Linked DNA regions of Homo sapiens. The protein of the gene in region 1 purifies or fractionates together with the protein of each later gene. This does not show direct contact. Each region holds a gene or a part of one and is shown on either strand. Other genes may lie near its edges.

What was found.
Region 2: the proteins of CELA3A (region 1) and GALNT1 purify together in Homo sapiens (affinity purification with mass spectrometry; one large-scale study listed by BioGRID and IntAct). This does not show direct contact.

What each region holds. Positions count from the first base shown.
Region 1 is NC_000001.11:22,004,556-22,008,211, reverse strand, and holds part of CELA3A (chymotrypsin-like elastase family member 3A preproprotein), read right to left. Parts: intron 2,766-3,656; coding exon 2,668-2,765; intron 2,551-2,667; coding exon 2,416-2,550; intron 1,335-2,415; coding exon 1,198-1,334; intron 840-1,197; coding exon 697-839; intron 1-696. UniProt on the Homo sapiens protein: Efficient protease with alanine specificity but only little elastolytic activity.
Region 2 is NC_000018.10:35,682,696-35,686,351, reverse strand, and holds part of GALNT1 (polypeptide N-acetylgalactosaminyltransferase 1), read right to left. Parts: intron 2,962-3,656; coding exon 2,754-2,961; intron 286-2,753; exon of another isoform or gene 1-285. UniProt on the Homo sapiens protein: Catalyzes the initial reaction in O-linked oligosaccharide biosynthesis, the transfer of an N-acetyl-D-galactosamine residue to a serine or threonine residue on the protein receptor.

The sequences.
Region 1 (3,656 bases):
ATTACTGCACTCCAGCCTGGGCAACAGAGCAAGATCCTGTCTCAAAAAAAAAAAAAAAAGAGACAACGTCTTGCTGTGTCGCCAGGCTTGGGTGCAGTGGCAAAAATCATAGCCACTGTGAGCTTGAACTCCCAGGCTCAAACAATCCTCCCACCTCAGCCTATCAAGTAGTTGGGACTACAGGCGAGTGCCACCATGCCTGACTAAGTAAAAAAAGTTTTTCTGTAGATGGGCATCTCACTATATTACCTAGGCTGGTCTCAAACTCCTAGCCTCAAGCAATCCTCCCACCTCAGCCTCCCAAAGCACTTGGATTATAGGCAGGAGGGACTGTGCCCAGAACAATGATGGTATTCTTAATGGTTAATTATAACTTTAGAACCACAGAATTGACCTGCGTTAGAGGTCATGGGACCAGTATCTCCTGCTGTGCTGATGCGGAAGCCTGAGGACCAGGGAGACACAGTGACTTGTCCCAAGTCATGTCAGTGTGTGAGCTGAGACTGCAACCCGGGGGTCCTGACTCCCAGGCCTGGGCTCTGTGTCTGGACTGCGCTGATTTCCTCCAAGTCCTGCCTGGCCTGGAGGCTGAATGGGGCAAGCAGGCAAGATCCTTCCTCCACCTTCCAGGCAGTTGGCCCCATTCCAAGGTCCTGCACACCCAGCACCACCTCGGGCAGGTAAGAGCTGACTCACGTTGCAGCCGGAGCGGATGTACCCTCCAGCACACACCATGGTTTTCTTCACGGTGGAACCCCACCAGTTCCACCTGGAGCAGTGCTTATAGTCCACCACGGGCAGCCGGGCCTGCTGCAGCTTGTCTGGGAGTGGCCCATTGGCTGCAAGGATAAAAAGCACCGAGTCAGGGGTCTGGGGGCACACCGCTAGGTGCCCCAGAGGAAGGGGGCATTCAAGGCCCACAGTTCTTCTGCCCTGATGAGGACTCTCCTCCCACCCGCTAAATGGTCCTGCATGCTTTGTGCACCATTACATCCCTAGCACGTGGCACACAGAAGATACCAAAACATGTGCAATTGACCACATTCGTGTTTTGGAGGTTGATGGAAGAAGGCTGCAGCTGGAGAGAAATGGGAGAAAAGTACAAGGTCCGGTCTTGGTGTTACCTTCAACCTGCAGCCCCCAGGCCCTGTCTTTCTGCCACTGTCTCTGTGGCCAGCTAGAGAAGTCAGCACGTACTATAGAGACGGCCCCAGCCGGTGATGTAGCAGGGTGTCTTGTTGGGAAGGATGTCACCAGCGGGAGGGAGTGAGGCGAGCTGGACGGCATCTCCCAGCTGGGCGCTGCGTGAGAGCTTGATGAGGGCGATGTCATTGCTGGGGAGGAGGGAACAGTCACGGGGCCTGGTCCTCCAGCCGGCCCAAGTCCTACCTTCTAGCCGTTGCTCCAGGCTATTCCACCTCTGAGATGCCCCAACTTCTTTACCCTCCAAATCCACTCTTTCATCATCATTATTATTATTATTATTATTATTATTGAGACAGAGTCTCGGTCTGTTGCCCAGGCTGGAGTGCAGTGTCACAATCATAGCTCACTGCAGCCTCCTGGGCCAAGGGATCCTCCTGCTTTCACCTCCTGAAGTGCTGGAATTACAGGCATGAGCCACTATACCTGGCCCAAATCGTTCTTAAGGCTGAGGAATTTTATTTATTCATTTATTTATTTTTGAGTCAGAGTCTCGCTCTGTTGCCCAGGCTGGAGTGCAGTGGCATGATCTTGGCTCACTGCAGCCTCCGCCTCCCGAGTTCAAGTGATTCTCCTGCCTCAGCCTTTCCAGTAGCTGGGATTACAGGCTCATGCCACCACGCCTGGCTAATATTTGTTAAGATTTTTTCATACACTTGAAAGGCATAAGATTGTCTCCTTGGCCTTCACACCACCCAGGAAGCCCAACTTCATGGTCACCTTTTGACAAATGGCAAAACTAAGGCCCAGAGAAGGCCAGTGACTTGCTCAGGCCATACACAGAGTTAATGCCAGAGCCTGACTCTCAGCCCAGTGCTCCTCCTTTTGCCCATAGTGCTGGGAGCCCAGGATGCACTGGGTGAGCCATCTATTGAATGGAGAAACCCTCGGATATGGGGGAAGGATGCCAGAGGAACCCTGAGCTCTGAAGCCACTAGCCAAGTGGCCTTGGCAGAGTTCCTGCCCCTCCCTGAACACTGCCATCCCCTCTGTAGGGAGACAGGTTTGGTGGTGATGGTCCTTAAAGGCTCTGCTGGCTTCAATCCTCAGTGTGTGGGACCTGGGCACAGGCTGCTGGACTCAGCTCCCCTGTCCCTATGTCCCTATGTCCCTACGTCCCTACTCAGAGTTGGAGCCTACTCAGACTTGGCTGTGGGTCATGGAGGGACAAGTAGAGGAGCCCCTGGGTTCCAGACCGGAGCATTCACTCACCCACAGGCCACACACGAGCGGTTCCAGAGTGGATGCACAAACAGCTCCTCAGAGTTGATGGGGATCACCTGCTCGGGGCCCTCCTTCACAGCAAGGTTGTACTCACCCAACACCACCTGGTAGGTCAGATCCCTCCTGCAGGCAGAGGTGAGGTCAGTCGGGGCCTGACTGGCTCACCTCCCTCCTTCCCCATCATCACCCACTCTCCCCCGCTGCCCAGGGCCACAGGCAGGGACAGGGTAGAGAACTCACGAGATGCAGTGGCCGGCAGTCACAACCCAATCGGGGGCGATGAGGCTACCGCCACACGTGTGGTAGAAGCTTCCACTTTTCTCATACTGCAGGGAAACCTGGTGGCCCAGGAGGAAAGGGCCTCAGTGGGCTGGGCCCCACCATGAGAGTTGCCACCAATGGCTGTATAGGTTGTGCACTGTGCAACTCTAGAGGGCGCCATTCACATGGAAAACGAGAGCACCCACTGAAATATGCAGCATACAACCTGCGACCTGGGCAGCTGCCCGTGGTGGCCCTATCACTTTTCCATGGGGGTCACATTCTGATTCTCCAAAGCCTCCCCACACCAGCACTATGACCTCCCTGGGGACCCCAACATTCTCTACCTTCTGTCTCTTAACAGCCCTTGAAGGCCCTCTGTTCTATCACGCACCCCTCGCCCTGTGAGTTTTTTTTTTTTTTGAGATGGAGTTTTGCTCTTGTTCCCCAGGCTGGAGTGCAATGGTGGCAATCTCAGCTCATTTCAACCTCCGCCTCCCGGGTTCAAGCGATTCTCCTGTCTCAGCCTCCACAGTAACCGGGATTACAGGCACCTGCCGTCGTGCCTGGCTAATTTTGTATTTTTAGTAGACACGGAGTTTCACCATGTTGGCCAGGCTGGTCTCGAGCTCCTCACCTCAGGTGATCTGCCCACCTCGGCCTCCCGAAGTGCTGGGATTACAGGCGTGAGCCACCGCGCCCAGCCCCCCTGACTCTTTTGAACCTCAGCTCTTTCAAGGCCTCTTGAGCCTTCTGAAGCACAGCTCACCCTGATGAGTTCTTTGCCTCTCTTCCCATTTCCTACACATTCTGATTTTCAAAAGCTCCATCTAGACCAGGGTTAGCAAACTGTGGACAGTGGGGCACATCAGGCTTCTGGTCTGTTTTTGTAATAAAGATGTCCTGGAAATAGTCACATTCATTTCTGTATTGTTTGTGTCTGCTTTCATGCTACCATGGCACAGTCA
Region 2 (3,656 bases), on another chromosome or scaffold:
CGGCCTGTACAGTCTCTCAAAGAAAATTCTGTGGAGATTTCAATTGGAAATGCACTGAATTTATATATGAATTTGGGTAGAATTGATACTCTTATGATATTGACTTTCCTATCCATTTCTCTCTCAAGATTTTTTCGTGAATTTCAGTAAATCTTTTGATAAACATATTCCTATGTGTAGTCTATGACTGCCATTGCTATTACGAATGGTATCTTTTCTTTTTGCATTATATTTTCTAAGTATTCCTTGTTGGTGTGAAATAAACTTTTCATTCTTTTGTTTGGAGATGGAGTCTCACTCCTGTTGCCCAGGCTAGAGGGCAATGGTGCACTCTTGGCTCATTGCAGCCTTGACTTCCTGAGTTCAAGCGATCCTCCCGACTCAGCCTCCCAAGTAGTTGGGACTATAGGCATGCACCACCACGACTGCCTAATTTTTTGTATTTTTAGTAGAGCTGGGGTTTCGCCATGTTGGCCAGACTGGTCTCGAACTCCTGGGTTCAAGTGATCTGCCCACCTCGGTCTCCCAAAGAGCTGGGATTACAGGCGTGAGCCACTGCTCTAGCCTGAACTTTTCTATAGTAATCTCGTGTTTGGCAACATTGCTAAATTCTTATTGTTTCTATTATTTTATGTATAGATTCGTTTTCTTCACAAACACATACACAATTGACAACAATGCTTTTCCTTTTTCCAATAAATAAATGTTCTTTATTTACTGTAGTACTGCAAAACCTAAGAAAGACTTCTAATAATACTAACTGGTGATTGAGGGCATTAACATCTTCTTCCACATCTTTTTAAAAAATGCTTCCAACATTTCTCCATTAACATGATTTCTGCTTGCAAAGGCTTTTTTTTTTTTTTTAAGCCATCCTTTCTTGGATTAGTAAACTTCCACTGTATAATAGTTTGCTAAGTATTTTCTAACAATAAATTCATGTTAAATTTCAGTGAACCCTTTTTCATTATCTATGGGAGTGATCAGAGGTGTTTAATAAGTTTGTAATCACAGTTTTAAAAATACATTAATGGGATGTATTAAACGAATTAGTTTTTGTAATATTACGCTAAACCAAGCAGTCATGATATCATGATATGTTTTTTACACGCATACGTGCACGTGTGTGTGTGTATATTGCTGGTTTAGTTTGCTGGTATTGTGAGATTTTTGTACTAGCATTCATGAACAGATTTGCACTGTAATTTTCCTTGTAGTACTTTTCTGGTTTTCATATCACAGTTATACCAGCCTCATAAAAAGAGTTTGGTTCGTTTCCTCTTTTTCTATATTGTTTACAAATTCTTAGGGGAGATTTGTTTCCCCTCTGCCACTGCATACCAAGGTTGAGACAGGCAAGTTTTCTCTGATGTGGTGGGATTAATTTTTCATTCTTGCTTTATACTAAGATACAGATTTCAAGAGCCCAGCTTTATACAGGTGTTTGCTATTAACCTTCTCACCTGAGGCAGGACCTAGGTTTTTGTCTCCTATCCTTCCATCTTATTTGTCTCTCAAGGCAGAAGCTTAGTGACCCCAAAGTTCAGCAGAAACCCTACCAGCGAAAGCTGGCTTTAGTGTTTGGACTGCACATTTGCTCTCACTTCTTTTCGAGATTTGCAAATTTCTTCCTTTTGTGCCAACTCAATGATGCATTTAAAATTTGTTTTGTCTTTTATCCAGCTTTTTCAGTTGGAAAAGTTATTCAGAATATCGAATCCACCATGCAGCCCAAACTGGAAGTCACTGTGGTTGCTATTTCAGCTGACTCCCTTCCATACTTCTGTCATCACCTCACCTTGCTTTCTCTCTATGGGTTGTGTGTTATCTTCAGGCGAGCAAATATTCCCTAAAACGTCATCTATTATTTAAAGAAAATAATTTACAGATATCCTATTCTTTTGATTCTTCAGGGCAATGTTCTCTTTTCTAAAGCTGCTCTACTTTCCCATTGATTGGCCCAATGCTGAGTTTTCCTATTTATTCATCTTTGAAAGGGAAAAAATATAGATCCAGCATTTGCTATCAAACAGAATAGATGCTGTGGCTTTAGCTCCCACCGTGTTCCACTTGACTAGTAAAAGTTCACTCCACTAAAATCTAAACATGGACAGTCTCTACCTCAAATTACAATGACAAGCAGAAATTCAACCAACATAGGTCTAGCAGACTGAAGTCAGGTTCTCTCCTGATGCACAAGAACTAAGCCAGAAATAGGGAGTTCTTTGAAAAATGTGTAACATGAAAAACTATAACCACAGGTGTTCATTACACCACTGTTCTTCCTGTATTATCTAAGATTATGGTGCTTTCCATACAAAATTAAGCATTTCAGGACACAATGTGCTTCTCTCCATTCTCTTCTACTTCTTGCTGCACTACAAGCTGAGAGGATCTGCCTGCTCCAGCATTAGCTTTAGAGTGCAAGGACAAGTGAAGGGTTTTATGCTGTCTTCCCTGAGTTCACCATCTATCTGTTCTGCTCCAGCTTGGTGAACACAGCATATAGTATACATTCCAATGACATGCTTCCTAATCACTCCTCATTAGTACAACAGTTTGCAAACATTCCTGCCAGGCTTCAGAATGTGGTCTTCTGGATATTTCCTTTAGAGTCCTCTTCACGGATATTTTAAAGCAAACTTGGGAGGAAATTACTTTTATATTTATTTAAAAAATATAGAATTTGGCAACTCACCATATAGTTTAGGACAAATGTACTAAAAGCAAACTTACAGACACCAGAAAATTACCTGTCATGTTTGATCCTGGCCAAGAGAGGCTCCAGCCATCCCACTGTACACTCACAATGGGCATCCAGGAAGGTGATCACTTGGCCTTTAGACACAGCAGCTCCTTTTAATCTAGCTCTGATCAATCCAGAACGTTGTTCCATTCGAATTACATGAACTGGTACTTTTAGTTTTTTCACATAACTCTCTAAAGGCCTTTTCAAAAAGTCTGGAAAATGAACAAAAGAAAACATGCAAACCAGTGTGGCCTGGCACTATTCAGATGAAAGTAATTTTGATTTGGAAAATTTATTCAACATACCCTTACTGAACACTCTCAGTGAGGCTCCCTGACTCATAAACCCATTCTGCTAAAGGAAGCCTTTATATTCCCCAAGAGAATGGACTACAGCTGCCTCTATTTTATTATATGCAGAATTAGGAGAATGCCTTTGTGCTCAGACTTAACCAAGGATAGGAATGCTCCTATGTTTCGCTAAGTAACTCTGTTAGACTCAATTCTTTCTCTAATCATGCTTAAGGATCAGCAATACAAAGAAAGCATTAAATCCAGACCTCAACAGAGAGAAGACACAGAATATGTAATAGCTGTAGAGTTCAGAAAATTGTGAAATTTCCTCAGAAGCACAAACAAATTGTCTTGTTGATTACCATGGTCTTTGACTATACTTTTTTTTTTTTTTTTTTTTTAATCAGGGGGCAGAAAGTGGGGTCACACTTGGAAAAGAAATGCTGGACTGTTAACTGCAAGGCCAAATAGAGATCCTTAAACTGACAATTAGGTGTAAGAAAAAAAGTTTAAAAAGGAAAGGGCAATTGAAGAAGAAAAGAGAAAAAGTGGGCAAAAGGGGAAAGGGAGAGTATGTGGGTGTATGAAATCAATAGCTATCCTGGAGAGTTCAG